2 separate regions of the Homo sapiens genome follow, and region 2 is linked to region 1. Evidence: fine-mapped expression QTL. Tissue or cell type: blood mononuclear cells. Region 1 holds a variant in brackets; the other region holds the start of a gene. All regions are shown on one strand. Distances are from middle to middle.

Region 1 (7,765 bases):
ACTTTTATTTAAAAAAAAAAAAATTCTGTTTTTTAAACCCAGGAGGGCTGGGCATGGTGGCTCATACCTGTAATCCCAGCATTTTGGGAGGCCAAGGTGGGTGGATCACCTGAGGTCAGGAGTTCGAGACCAGCCTGGCCAACATGAGGAAACCCCATCTCTACTAAAAATACAAAAATTAGCCAGGCATGGTGGTGCATGCCTATAATCCCAGCTATTTGGGAGGTTGAGGCAGGAGAATTGCTTGAACCTGGGAGGCAGAGGTTACAGTGAGCCGAGATTGTACCATTGCACTCCAGCCTGGGCGACAAGAATGAAATTCAGTCTTAACAACAACAACATCCAGGAGGATAAGCAAATTTGTGAGCAGTCTCCTTCTAAGATGGGGGTTTCTGAGGTTCAATGTTCTTCAGCTGTGACATAGACCCACTGTCTGCTCAGTATCCACCTGGGCCTGCCTCCACATGGCCCCTATGCGACTTGGAGGTAAAAGAGAACCTACGTAAACATGCTGCTCATGCTGCCAGCTGCACTGTAAGAAACTGTCTAAATCTGTTTGGGTGTGTTTTCTCCTTACTGGTTGAATCTATGGAAGATTGGTAAATTGACCTAACAGCTGCAGTAATCTCTGCTGCTTAGGGATTGCTTGATAATGACCCATTAGCAAGGCCTACTGCCAATGTAGGAACGGGAGGAGGCACTACTAATGTCATATATTCGCTTTCTCCATCCAGTAGTGATGACAGGGAAGTGCTGCTGGGTAAGGCAAAATTATGTCTCCACCAACAGTTCCCCAAACCTGCCTTTTAGGTCGATGGGTTTGAAGTGCTGGCCCTGAGGAGTGCTGGCCTCAAGAAGCCAAAAGCCACGATGTCACTATTTATATTAAAATTCATGAGTTTGTTGTAGTCACCAGTAGGCCTCCCTGTGTCTACCAGGATGCAGAAGGTAACAACATAGGGCCTGGTTCCATCCCACTCAATGTTTGAGACTTATTTCCTGGAGGCTGGGTCCTAGTTTTATTCTTGGGGTCTGGAGTCTCCTGCAATGACTGGGTCTTTGTTAATTAACTTCAGCACAACTGGCTCCCTTCCCTTCTTGCATGAGGCTTCTCAGACCTCTAGTGGACTTTTCTATCCATCTGCCAGACCTACCCAGACTTGCTCGAACTTAGCAGTGGCCACAAACTTAGCTCAAGCTGAAAGCTCTACTACAAAAACCTGTATGAAAGAGCTGAGTGATGATGCTGACTCTCGCCCTGGACTATTTGCAGCTGCTTTGTTTTTGAAAATAGCCAACTTAACTGCAGTCACTTCAGCGCAATCCACATCCACCTAGAGTATTTGTGAAAACAAATGAGACCATGTTGACCCCTATGATCAGAGCTTATTTTCATAATGATGGCTTGGTTTGATGACGCTTGAATATGAGCTGCGGCTCAGCAGCAGAAGGGCACAACCTCAAAAAGCAGATGTTTTTTAAAAAGCCAATAATTGAATTAAAAAAGGCTTCCTTGTCAGCTGTCATGCATCTGAGTAAAGGGTGGGGTAGGACACTTCCTTGGAAGCAATGATCTGCAAATGCATTATTTGACTGTCAAACTATGCTGAACTTTATACTGATATGATGCAAATGATGAACCTCCCTGTGGTCAAATAAGGTTTCTCTTTTTGTTGAGCTGCAGCAGTTCATGGCAAGGAAAACAGGTTTTGGGGAAGGAAAGAAAGGGTGTCGCTCCTTTGGGGCAGGAAAAAACAGAAATACCAAATGCTGATGCTATTTCTTAGTTACATTTTCTTTTCTTTCTTTTTTTTTTTTTTTTTTGAGATGGAGTCTGGCTCTGTCGCCCAGGCTGGAGTGCAGTGGCACGATCTCGACTCACTGCAAACTCCTCCTGGGTTCATGCCATTCTCCTGCCTCAGCCTCCTGAGTAGCTGGGACTACAGGCGCCCGCCACCACGCCCGGCTAATTTTTTGTATTTTTAGTAAAGATGGGGTTTCACCGTGTTAGCCAGGATGGTCTCAATCTCCTGACCTCGTGATCCGGCCGCCTCGGCCTCCCAAAGTGCTGGGATTACAGGCGTGAGCCACCGCGCCCAGCCCTTAGTTATGTGTTCTGTAGAATATTAGATTTTACCCTTGATGGGAGTGGGGTTGTGGGTGTCGCTCGCTGTGTCTGTAGATCAGGTAAACGAGAAGTTCTGAGAATATCTAATATCTGATATCTAGAAGTGATATAAACTGGGCAATACCTCTTCCCAAACAGCAGTAGAGTTCATCGAGTAAAGAGTATTACAGTGTTGGCTGGGCGTGGTGGCTCACGCCTGTAATCCCAGCACTTTGGGAGGCCAAGGCAGGCGGATCACCTGAGGTCGGGAGTTCGAGGCCAGCCTGACCAACATGGAGAAGCCCCGTCTCTACTAAAAATAAAAAATTAGTTGGGCGTGGTGGTGCATGCCTGTAATCCCAGCTACTCTGGAGGCTGAGGTAGGAGAATCACATGAACCCAGGAGGCGGAGGTTGCAGTGAGCTGAGATCGCACCATTGCACTCCAGCCTGGGCAATAAGAGCAAAACTCTGTCTCAAAAAAAGAAAAAAAAAAGATTACTACAGTGCCAAAAGCGGACCTTAGTCAAGAAGCGGTGCTGATCGAAGTCATGTTGCTTATCAGTTACCTTGCTATGCCATACATTATTTAGAGGCCCAGGTTGGATGTGGAGCAAGCTGTGGGTGCCACCTTTTCCTTGGAGACCATGATCTGTGACTTTCTTAAGGTCACCAGTTAGGAAATGGTAAAGTTGAGATTCAAACTCCTATTTTTATTTTGGAATTTAGTGAGGTTTTCTTTGCAAATAAATATGTTGTCAGTTTTTGTAAATGTTTAGTAGACAACTGAAAAAAATAGCCTTTAATAGTAAAATGAAGCATTATTAAAAACGCTTGTTCTTGTAGATAGAGTAAATTTTCATCTTTAGGGATATTGAGGCAAAATGTTTATTTACTTAATGAAAATTAACATCTGAATTAGTCTTAAGATTTACTGGAAAATAAAACATGAAGAATTATTGGTGTTAAGCTATTAATCTGCTATAACAGCTGTCATCTTAGATCTAACACCAGAAAACTGTTGGTAAAAATCTGCAATTTGGCTGGGCCTGGTGGCTCACACCTGTAATCCCAACACTTTGGGAGACTGAGGCTGGAGGATCACCTGAGCCCAGGAGTTTGAGACCAATCTGGGCAATATAGTGAGACCCCATCTACAAAAAATAGAAAAAATTAGGTGGGCATGGTGGGCATGCCTGTGGTCCCAGCTGAGGAGCCCAGCTCAGGAGGCTGAGCCAGGAGGATCACTTAAGCACAGGAAGTTGAGACTTCAGTGAGCAGTGATTGCACCACTGCACTCCAGCCTGGGTGACAGAGTGAAACCCTGTCTTAGAAAAAAAAAAAAAAGAAAAGACAGGAAAAGAAAATAAGGTGTTTTCTGTGAACTCTAGTCCAGTTCATAAATATTAATTCTGCCTTATGAATAA[T/C]AATATTCAGATTTGTCCATTTTTGGCCTGTTTTAATCTATGAAAGACAAAGCAGAAGCTGTTTAAAATTTACTTTTGCTTCATACTGTAAAACTTAAAAAATACTTTCTTCTTTGACCTCTTAGGTGTTATGTTTTTTATGTTCCCGAATTTTTTTTACAGTTCTATATAATTTTTTATGCTTACTCATCCTTGAAGGTTGAAAACTCTATCCATGCTTTGCATTTGTTCCAATATGGGATGAGCTATTTTTTTTTTTTAATCTGGCCTTACTGAATCAATGAGCTAATTCTTTTTGGCTCCCTGCCTGTCTATTTTGATGCTCTTAGAATCTTCCTCTCATTATCCTAGGCTGCAGGGTTGGGTACCTTCCAGCAGCTTGAAAGGATGGTGGAGGAAGCCATCTGGCAAGGAAAGTCACCCTGGCAAAGTTTCTTCTCAAGGCTTTGCTAACCCACTGTCCCAAGGAGCCAAAGGTTATCTGGCCTCTAGTCTCTCCTCCTCACTGGCCAGCAGCCAGACTGGACGTGGCCTGGCCATCCTCCTGAGACTACCATTGCCAATATTGTAACAGTGAGAGAAATCGAACATAGCTGACTCCATCTTGCTTCTGACCTCACAAGCTAACTGCCTTCGTGCATTCCTGCATGTAGACTAAGCTAATCATGGAAAGAATTTAGATTATAGTTTAACTGTAGAACTAATGATTACCTCTGTTTTGAAATAGACCCCTGAGGAGATAAGGAAGTATGCACACAACATTTAAACAATGCTGTCTTGACGATTTATAGCAATAACGTGGACCTGACAAGCATTTGACCATGAACAAAGAAGTTTTGCAACCTCCTTGGAGCCCTGCTGATGCCCAGATGTCTGTGGTCACCAGTCACCTCTAGACCTTAACCCCTCTCTGTTCTCCCTTCCCCTAACATAAAAGGAGCCAAAAAAATCCATGAACTTAAGATGATTCTTTAGGACACTAGGCCACCATTTTCTCAGTTTGCTTGTTCCCCCCAAAAAAGTCATCTTCCAGCCGGGTGCAGTGGCTTAAACCTGTAATCCCAGCACTTTGTTTCTCCGGTTTTTGAGATAGGAGGGGCCCTCTAGTAGTGTCAACTTGAGTATAGTGTACCCACAGTTTTATTCCAGCAAACTTCACTGATGAGTGGGTATTCAGCAACATCTCAAACAATCCCATTCACTTGTTCCTTCTAGGTGTCATTCCACAGTCACCCCTTGTCAACCCTGCCCAGTTCCACTGAAAGTAGCCAAATGAGAGACAACATCCTGTTGTCCCCAACTCCACAAGATTATGGAATGAACCTTTGATACTGGGGAATTGTAACAGTGAAAGAAATCTAACATAGCTGACTCCATCTTGCTTCTAACCTCACAAGCTAACTGCTTTTGCTCATTCCTGCCTGTAGGCCAAGCTAATCATGGAAAGAATTTATTTTATATTTTAACTGTAGAACTAATGACTATCTGTCTTTTGAAACAGACCTCTGAGGAGGTAAGGAAGTATATACACAAGTAACAATGCTATCTTAAAGATTTATAGGAAAAGGGTGGATCTGACAAGCAGTTAACTATGAACAAAGAAGATGTGCAACCTCCTTGGACCCCTGCTGATGCCCAGATGTCTGTGGTCACCAGTCACCTCTGGACTTTAACTCCTTCCCTGTTCCCCTTTCCCCCAACATAAAAGGAGCCTAAAAATCTATCGACTTAGGGTGCTTTAGAACACTAGTCCACCATCGTCTTGGTTTACTGGCTCCCTGAAACAAAGTCATCTTCCTTGCCCCAACACCTTGTCTCTCAACTTGTTGGCTGCTGTGCAGTAAGCAGTATGAGCTTTGGACTCAACTGCAGTATCAGAGGGGAGACTTGCCACTCTGGGAAAAAAAAAATCCCCTATTTGCATGTCTTGGGCCATTTCAGTGAGTATTTAGAGAGGAGATTCAGAAGTCTAGGCTAAAACCCAATTTTACCTGGCAGTGTTCTGCTTGTCTATCGCTCCAAAAAATAACACTCAAAATTCAGGGGTGTGAAACAATCACAATCATTTATTATTATCTCTCATGATTCTGGTGATTGACTGGGCTCAGCTAGTTAGTTCCCACTCAGAATGTGTCAACTGGCTACCATGAGACAGCGATCATACTGGAGTGGCCTTGAAGGCTTCCTAGTCACATGTCTGGCACTGAGACAGGGAAAACTCAAACTGCTGGGGCATGAAACAGCCAAAGCTCCTTGACTCTTTATTTTCATGGGTTCTATTTACATGATCTCTGCAACATGGTGGTTTCAGGGCTGCTGTACTTATATACTCCAAAGGCACATGTTCTGAGCAAGAGAGCTAACCGATGCCTAGAGCTAGATGACCAGGTCTCCTTTTAAGACCCAGTTTTGAAAGTCACATAGCATTACTTTGGTTGTGCAGTCACAGAAACCCATCTAAGAAGCCTACCTGGGTTCAAGGGGAAAGGACTTAGATGCCACCTCTTGATTGAGGTGGGGGGCAGGGTTTTTGGAAGAGCACATGGGACTGAACATATTGTTGCTGCAATTCTGAAAAATACAATCTGCAGCAGGAAGTTTAATGCAACTTGTAGAATTAATAAATGATTGTATACCATTAATAGTAACACTTCTTGACACCTACTCTATGAGAGTATCTAACTCATCGAACCGTGTGAGGATTAAATCATTAATATCATATATTTAAAGCACCTAGAATACTGACTGGCACATAGTAAGTGCACACAGTAAGTAAATGTTAGCTGTACTCTATAGTTAAGAAAAATTAGAAGTCTGTAACTATAGTATTAACTAATTACCCTTCCCCATCATTCAATTCTCAGTTGTTCATTCTGCTATTCCCTTTTTTTAGAAAAAAGTTTCTTGGTTTATGTCCTTGTTTAGGTGGAAAAGCTTTCACCATCTGAAAACTTCTTAAGAAAAGGTACATGGGAGATAAACATTTTGAAATTGTACGTGTCTGGAATATATTTACCCCCACATTTGACTGCTAATTTGTATGTGTATGAGAATCTATGTTAGAAATAATTTTCTCTCAGCATTTTATTTACTTATTTATTTAATTTATTTAGATACAGAGTCTCGCTCTATCACTCAGGTTGGAGTGCAGTGGTGCCATCTTGGCTCACTGAAACCTCCAGTTCCCAGGTTCAAGTGATTCTCATGCTTCAGCCTCCTGAGTATCTGGGATTACAGGTGACCACCACCACGCTTGGCTAATTTTTGTATTTTTTAGTAGAGATGGGATTTCAACAAGTTGGCCAGGCTGGTCTTGAACTCCTGTCCTCAAGTGATCCACTCACCTTGGCCTCTCAGAGTGCTGGGATTACAGGTGTGAGCCACTGCACCCAGCCTACTCTCAGCATTTTAAAGACATTATTCCATTGTCTTTCAGTTTCATGTGTTGCTACTGAGAAATCAGATGCCATTCCGATTCTGGATCCTTTATGTGAAACCTTATTTCCTCCTGGGTACTTGTAAGATCTTCCCTATGTCCTCAGTCTTCTAAAGTTTTATCACAATGTTGCCTTGGTGTGGTTCTGGTTTTGTCCATTGCACTATGCTCAGTGAGCACTTTCAATGTGGAAATTCATGCTCTTTAGTTCTCAAAATATATAATTGAATTATTTAATTCATTTCTTCCCCTGTTTCCCAGATGTCCAAGGCTGGCTTTCTAATCTTCTTATCCTTTCTTATTTCTTTCCCTTCTCTTTGCCTTCTGTCTATGCATTCTAGGATATTTTCTAACTTTATCTTCTTAACATTCTACTCAGTTTTTTATTTTTGCTATCAGATTTTTAATTTAAAAGAGCTGTGTTTGGTTCTATGAGTGTTCCTTTTTTAGGGTATTTATTTATTTACTTATTGAGATAGTGTCTCGCTATGTCACCCAGGCTAGAGTGCAGTGGCTGTTCACAGGTGTGGTCATAGCCTCAAACTCCTGGGCTCAAGTTGTCCTCCTGCCTCAGCCTACCAAGCAGCAGGGACTACAGGCTCATGTCATCGCACCCAGCTTTTCTGTTTTATTTGATCTTTCTCAGAGAAGATCAATAATAGATTTCTCAGTTTTCTTCTCCCCCTATACTCTTTTTCTTCCTTTTCTCTTTTTTCCTGTTAGCATGTTTTGGGTTCTGTTTTTAATGTCAGATCCTTCCCCTACATTGTGATGACCTTCAGCTGCCTGCTCTTAC
Region 2 (7,765 bases), 90 kb before region 1:
CGTCTGTTAAGCCTTTAAGGAGCTGGTGAGGACTCTGCAAAGAACATCTGGCTCTGTCCCCTAACAATGGGGGAAAGGAATTGCTTCAGATTGCTGCAGCTCAACTAGCTTTCACATTGCTCCCACTCCCCTTTAACACACACACACACACACACACACACACACACACACACACTCTCTCTCTCTCTCTCTCTCTCTCTCCCCCCCCACATATATACATATGATGTATAACGTTGCTGGTAAGTAATGGCTACCATTTATTGAACACCTGAAAATGTTAATTATATATATTGCCTCATTTAATCTTCATGACCAGCCCATTAAGCAGTGGTTCTCAAACTTGACCTTGCGTCAGAATCTCTCCAGGAACTTATTAAGCCCCACACCCACAGCCTACAGAGTGAGGCCTGAGAATCTCCATTTCCAACAAGCTCGCAGGTGATAAGTATGCCCCACTTTGAGAACCACTGCCACAGGGAAACAGAGATTCAAGAGTGGTTTGGAATGTCTTGCCTACAGTTCCACAGCTAGTAAAGAACAGATCCAGAATTTGAACCTAGATCTGTCTGACTCTACAGACAGTGCTGGTAACCATGCTACTGTATGTGTGAATGTATGCCTCATCTTCCCAAATTCATTGGCAGATCCTTAAAGGCAGATGTCAATCACACTATAGACCTCCCTCATCCATCTCAGAACTTCATAGGGTCTTTGGACTTGGTAGGTGCTACATAAATACTTTGTATACTGGCTCCTACATATCTACATACTTCTAAGAGCCACAAATTCAAACTCAACTTAAGCCAAAGAACACAAAAAGGGCGCATAGCCAGACCCAGTTTTACGTGACATTCTCTCTCGCTACTCTGTCTTTGCCCATGGTGCCACCACACTAACTCCTACTCACTCTTCAGTCACTTCCTTCAGAAATCCTGGGCTCCCTAAAACTGGGGGCCACTGCACCCTAAGTTTATCTCTATGATGGCATTTACCAATCCACTATAACTGGCTATTTTCCATCTCTTAAAGCAGTTGGTAAAAGCTAGCATCTAGTTTAACAGTATACCCCCAGAGCCTAGCACAGCACCTGGCACTTCACAGGCAACTCCATAAACTGTTGAATGAATAAATGCAGAGCTACAAGTCCTAAATTCTGTGTAAAAATATCACAATACGTGATGCGCAGTTCTCAAAGATGAATCCCAGAGAAGAGGAAGGCAGCCTAGGTAACAAAGACCAATTTTGCCTTTTCTTTTCCCTATCACTTCTCTCACACTTGGAGAACATGCACCGCTTAGGGCAGCATCATCCGTGATGAGACAACATCCTAGCTGAACAAAACGCTCGTGGGCTATAAGGTCAGCAGAGGCCATTCAGAGGGGAGGAAAGTGTTCTGTGGCCCTTCGTTTCTCCTGATTTCTCTCTGACACACTCTCCTTTTCACTGTTTCTCCACCCCACTGCAGTTAAGGGCTTTGGCACAGGGATGAAAGAGACAGATCAGACTCAAGGGTGCGGATCTGGCAGCGGGCACAGAAGCATCTCCTAGCCTGCACCAAAGTCCACGGGAAAGATCCAAGGGGACAGTGACTCTGGCCCCAGATAAAGCGCAGCTAGAACAGTACTGAGATTGGAAGAGCAATAATTTCACATGGACATTAACTGTCAGAGATCTTTTTTAAAAATCATGTTTTTAAAGTACAGACTTCAACTCTATTCCCAGAAAACTGGGCCCTGCTGAATCCAGTGCTTACACAAGCTGAGAGCCAAACACAGCTTCTTCCTCTTCCAAACCCACCCACCAGCCCGCAACATCCACCATGGTAAGCATTTCCCAGGCCCAGGTCAGGACCCTTGCTTCAACTTTAGCTTGCAAAAGGCCCCTTTTTAAAGAGGCCTCTTAGCTTTCTCTCTTCCCTTGCTAATAAAACTGTTCCCTACCATCACCATGTTGCAGTAAGAGAGACCTCTCCCTTCTTCCAACCCCTCTCGGTCTATAACACAACCTACAGCAGGTTGGCCCCATCCAATCAGTCTGAATTGCTTCATGCCAAGGAAATTGCTGCTTTTATTAAAAATAAAAGCACACTAGGCAGGCGAAGGGCTGTGAAAAGTATGAGTCTGGCATAATTATGAAGGTCGAGGTTAAGGTTACCAAAAGAGACATGCAAAGATTTCCCGAAAGCCTGGGGGAATCAAGATGTATATCTACGTGAGTATAGACACACAGATGAAACACAGAGGGAATTTATGCAGCAGATCTAAATAACATCCTCTCTGATAGCGAAAAAACAAAATCAGAGCCACTCTCAAGTAATTTTTCTTTTGATTAAAAAAACAAAAAACAAAACCTAAAGCGAGAAGGAAGAGGGGCCTACTAGACTGAGTTCAAAATAACCACATTTGTTTTATGTAATTTCTGTTATCTTTGCTATAACCTGGGGACCTGATTACAGTTGGGTCAGGAAACAAATCTACTAGTGAAATCCACCAAGAGCCTTGGCCCTTGGAAAAACACGTTCACGTTCTCCGAAAATCCTCTCTTCCTTCCAATGCCTGCTCATGGAAGTGGGAAAGTTGGGTAGGAGAAGGAGAAACCCCTCTCTTCTTAAAAGTCCCCCCACCCTTCAGCCTTCACATCAAGATTTTAAGTTTTAGGAGGATGACAAGCCCATCACCCTGCCTTTGGCATAAAGCTTTACACTTTCACACATACGTTTTCTTGTGTGATCCTCAAAATTTGGCTTCTCAATATTAAAAAAATAAAAATAAAAGGCCACTAACGTAAACAATTTCGGCAACCTCCCCACACCCCCATAAGCCCAGTCACTTTCAAATCTCAATTTTAAATCTCTCAAGGACAATGACTCACAGGGCAAGTGAAGGGGGAAGGGAGGGTCAACTGGTCAAAGCCCATTCATACATGCAACAACTAGAAACCACAGTATTGCCGCATCAGCACAAGATTTTAATTTACGGCGCATTGAGCCCCACCGTACCTTCCGCCAACACCTCGTCCACTGTGACCTGCTGTCGCCCGATGCCGAAGACTCTTCCGATGTAGCCACTGCCCAGGCCCGAGGTGCTGCCCCCTCCTCCGCTGGAGCCGGAGCCCAGGCCAGAGCCGCCCTGCTCTCGCCGGGAGTCGAAAAACTTCTTCATCTTGCGAATAGGGAGCAGCAAAGCAAAATACCGATGGTTTCTAGATTTTTTTTTTTTTTTTTTTTTTTTAAGAAAAGAGATCCAAGGATTTCTTCTCAGATTTCACCTCGGAGAGGAGCCACCCGAATCCGGCCGTGGGGGTGGGGGCTGAGGGAGGATGCCTATAGGAATATGCGTGTCAATCGCGCAGCGGGTCCCCTCCTCCTCCAGAAAGCGATTCGTGTAAGTTTAAACCTGTGATGACAGAGGAAGAAAGAGAGGATGAATCAGTAACACGCTTAAAAATTCAACCGCTGAGTCCTAGGGGGAGCAAAAGCCATCATCCTGGGGAAACGCTTCATGTATTTTCCCGGCGAGAAAAACCGTGGGGCTGAAAACGCGACCCCGGCCCCAGAACCCGGGACCCCCGAGCCGGGAGCTCGGAGAAAGGAGGGATCCGAGCTGCTCCGGCAGCGCCGACCCTCCCGGGCACTGCCTCCCGCTCCTCCCGGGTCTCCCCGCCGCCCCTCGAGGCGGCATCCTGGCAGCACCCACTTGAGACGGCTCGGCGGCCGGCGCCCTGCTACCAGCCCCGCGACATTGTCACGGCCGCCGGGCCGGCCTGCGACGCAGAGAAGAGGCGGCGCTGCAGCGAGAGCCGGGGCCGCGCTCGGCTCCCGCCCGCCCGCCAGCTGATCCCGGGAGCGCCGGGCGGAGACTGACCCGCCGCCCCTCCCCCGCGCGCGCTCCCGCCCGGCTCCATCCACCCAACCAGGAAGTGAACCGCCGCCGGAAGTGCCCCTCGGGGCGGCGCGGCGAGGGACCGGGGCCTCTCCTGCAACCGCCGTTCTGTCGCCACGGATGGGAAGGAGTCGACCGCGAGAAGAGGACTGGGGGAAGAGGGTCTCAGTGCAGACAGAGTTCTGGAAAAGACTGTTGATATCACCCGAGCCGCAGGGCAAGCTGGGAAAGGTAGCTCGGCACAGTCCGGCTGCTGGACTACAAATCCCAGCATACTCCTGGAGGAGAGGGCGAGGCGGCAGCCGTGTGGCCTCCACGGCCTCGAAGGAGATTTGTGGGGTGGCGCGTATGTGGGGACTCGGCAATTTAAACACATCCCGTGAAGAAACTGCCAACAACTAAGTTCCCCCCCCCCCCCCCCCGCTGTATGTTCCACCCTTCTGGAGCCATCTTATTTGCGGCCTGGCCTCCTGGCACAAGGGATTCTGGAGGTTGTGGTTTCCGAACGGATCGAGACTGACACCTGAAGGACGCGGCTTAACCGCTTAGCCCCTAGCGGGTCCTGTGGGTTTCCCGACGTCTCCTGGGCTGAAATGGAAGCGAGAAGTGATCGGGAACATTGTGCTGGCAGTTGGATCCGGCTGCACCGAGCGCCAGCCTTGAAATAAGTAAAACCGATGCCCTTCCGCCCCTAACCTCAAAAGCTGCTTTTGCGTCTCGATGTTATTGAGAGCCGGCTCTGCGGTCAGCTCTGAGCTAGGCGCTGTGAGAACGCTCAGTAAGACAGTGTCTCGTCTGGAAATGTACAGGCGAGATTCAAACCGAGAAACTGCCAAAGGTTGTGTGCAGGGCAGATCCTAGGATACCGGAGACCCAGCCCGTTGGCTTGACCTCAAAACTCGGGGGCTTTTCGGCCCATGCTGTCCCTTAATTCCTCCTCCTTTGCTGACGCTGTGGGTGCGCATCAAAGCCTAAACTTCACTAGCTCCCTTGCACACAAGAACACTAACCCTAACCTGACCAGTTATTTATTTTTCACTTCAAGATTCTTCCATTGATACTTACGTTTCCCTGATACCGTCCAAGTGCTGAGGGCGGGGATGGACTGTGTGATTTGCATCTGCCAAATGCAGAAAATTTGGAAGGTCAGTTGGTACACTTTTCCGACCTAGATTTCCTGATGGATGATGCTGAAGAGTGGCAAGTTGCTGCCAAAAACAAACAAAAAAACCTACCATGATTTATTAATATTATTTTTCTAACCCCTGAATATGGGTTATTGTTCATCTCTGCCCGCTTTCCCCACTCCCTAGTGCTTGTCTCAGAATTTTTTTTTCAGCGGGTATTTGAGTAGAGAAGGGTGTCCCAGGGAAAAAAATGGTTCTTGCTTTCTCTAATCTGAATATTGAGCTGAGCTGTGACTGGGTTAACAGTAGCGTTTGTTGTTGCTGCTGCTGCAGCTTGTTTCAAGTAGTGCCATTGTAATTAAACTCCGTGAAGAGATAGCATCTTTTCTTCCGGAGAGAGTCAGTGTTGTCACCTCAGTTCACGAATTCATGTAGCCACCTCCAGGGTGAAATGCAGCCCCTATTCCCTCAAACTAAGCCCACGAAGGCATGTTCTCTGCACTTTCCTTAAAAGGCCAGATTTTTGTCTGAGGAAGTTTGAAGCAGATCTTAAAATAGATGAGAAAGCTCATTTGGAATTAGACTCATTGACCCCCATTTCTCTCAGCACTTATTTGTCTTGACTGACTTTTTTAAACAAGCTGTGCTAGGTCCTAAAATCAATCTGATGCTATCTCAGTTTTTACCTTTCTAGACTTCTCTGGTACCAGACTAGTCCAGGCTTACACAAATCTCAAGTCTTACTTCAGTGATACAAAAACTCCCAATATGCTTAAGGTAGCTAACATGCATTTATTTAACACCCACGTGAATGCTCTGATCAGAAGCTGAGGGAAGAGGTTTAAAAAACAAAAAACATGACTAGATTCCTTGCCCTCCATTCCCTCACAGACTAATAGCAATTATAATGACAAATCCACAGTTTTTCATGCTTTACATATATTAAGTATATAATGCTCACAACCACCCTATGAAGTAAAGTACCATTATTATACTCATTTTATAGGTGGGTAAGTAAAGCAAAGAGATTAGTGACTTGCCCAAAGTCACACAGTAAATAGCAAAGCCAGGATTCAAACCCAAACATTTTAGTTTCAAAGCCCAGTTCTTACCTGGCTATACTAAACTGTCTACTTAGAGAGAGCAAACATTAACTGATTAAAAGACTCGTGAATAGTTAGAAACCCACGCACAAGCAGCATAGGACCAGGAGACAGGAAACCTCTTGCCACTTCATAGCTGGGATCCTAGACCACTTGTGTCACTGGGCTTATTATCTCAGCTATAAAACCAGAGCTCTTACAACTCTTAGTAATTTTTTAGTTCCTGAGTACAAAATAATGAACAGATCAGCCACTATAATCTCAAAACTATCACACTTTCTGTATAATTTGTCCCATGCTGCTTTGCATTCCTGTTCAACTTTTAATGTATATTGCTGTCTCAACCAAACACCTCAAAGCCAGAGAACCATCTTCTACTTATCTCCTTGGGCATCCAGTATAATAGTTTACATAGAGTGTGTTCTTAGCAGTACTTAAAGTAAATAATTTACTTTAAATGTGACACAAAACAGAGCTATCTGATTAAGGTGGAAAGATTGATTTGAAGTATCCTAGATGAATTTTGAACTAGGTGTGGAAGATGCTATGGGTAAATAGTCAAAGGGAGTGGGAAAAGAAAGTGCCATTTACTATTGTTACAATAGTGATCATATGACCGATGGAACAGACTCTTTGAGGCAATAAGATGCCAAATTATAAACAAGACCTAAGGCTGTGTCAGGCAAGGGTTAAGTCACACATCCCTACACTTGAAGAGTAAACCATCTTCTAACTGCCACAAGGTTTTTCTTTTTCTCTGGTAGCTAAATAGACACTGGCCTGGAGATAAGCAATATTGAATCAATTGTAGCTCACTGACCACTAGATGCTGACTAACTGTATCCCCCCAACCCCTGTTCCACAAACCATAACTATTTCTTTGATTGGACAAGAGACTGATTTCAGTAACATCCTAGTAAGAGACTACCAACCACAGACTGGTTCTGGCTGGTTTTCAGAGGCTGTGCACTGAGTGTCTTCATGTCCTTTGCTTCACCTAATTGTAATGCATTTAAATGTTAAATCTCCACCCCAAAGAGAACATAGGACATATGTAACATGCATGTTTGCTCACTATGCATGCATGTGCTGCCCCCCGCTTTGTGAATAATCAAAGCTCCTGTAACTTAAGTGTGTATTCTTAGCCAACTCATTTGGCATAAATTTGTGTTCCACTTTTTCCTCCCTCTAAATACCTGCTTTCAGTCTCTGCCAGAGTCTACACTTCCCAGCCTGTCAGGATCACCAGCCTGCAGGCTGCAACCCTTTATAAAAAGTAAAGCTCCCCTCTCCAAATTTATAAACCTTGGGATTCTTCAGTTAACACTATGTATCTTCCATATGCCAGTTATGGAATTTAAAAAATATATATATATTGTTTTATTGTTTTATTTTTATTTTATTTATTTATTTATTTATTTATTTATTTATTTTTTGAGACAGAGTCTCACTCTGTAGCTCAAGTTGTAGTGCAGTGGCGTGATCTCGTCTCACTGCAACCTCTGCCTCCCAGGCTCCAGCGATTCTTGTGCCTCAGCCTCCCGAGTAGCGGGGACTACAGGTGTGTGCCACCATGCCTGGCTAATTTTTTGTATTTTAGTAGAGACAGGGTTTCACCATGTTGCCCAGGGTGGTCTTGAACTCCTGAGCTCAG

What was found. PIP is the estimated chance that this variant, and not a neighbour inherited with it, causes the effect.
Region 2: it holds the start of AAK1, and the variant in region 1 is fine-mapped to the expression of AAK1 in blood mononuclear cells (TOPMed, PIP above 0.99).

What each region holds. Positions count from the first base shown.
Region 1 is chr2:69,730,175-69,737,939 of GRCh38, forward strand. It overlaps a transcript of ANXA4 not described here. Among named protein-coding and RNA genes, the nearest start is that of ANXA4, 8.1 kb to the right of the region's middle. The variant T/C (reference allele first, on the strand shown) is at 3,534.
Region 2 is chr2:69,639,880-69,647,644 of GRCh38, forward strand. AAK1 (AP2 associated kinase 1) reads right to left here and starts at 3,860. Exons shown (of 22, transcript NM_014911.5): 1 at 3,696-3,860; 2 at 2,999-3,395. The coding sequence starts at 3,161. It also overlaps a transcript of ANXA4 not described here. RefSeq lists a silencer at 3,609-3,938 and enhancers at 4,019-4,288, 5,044-5,646.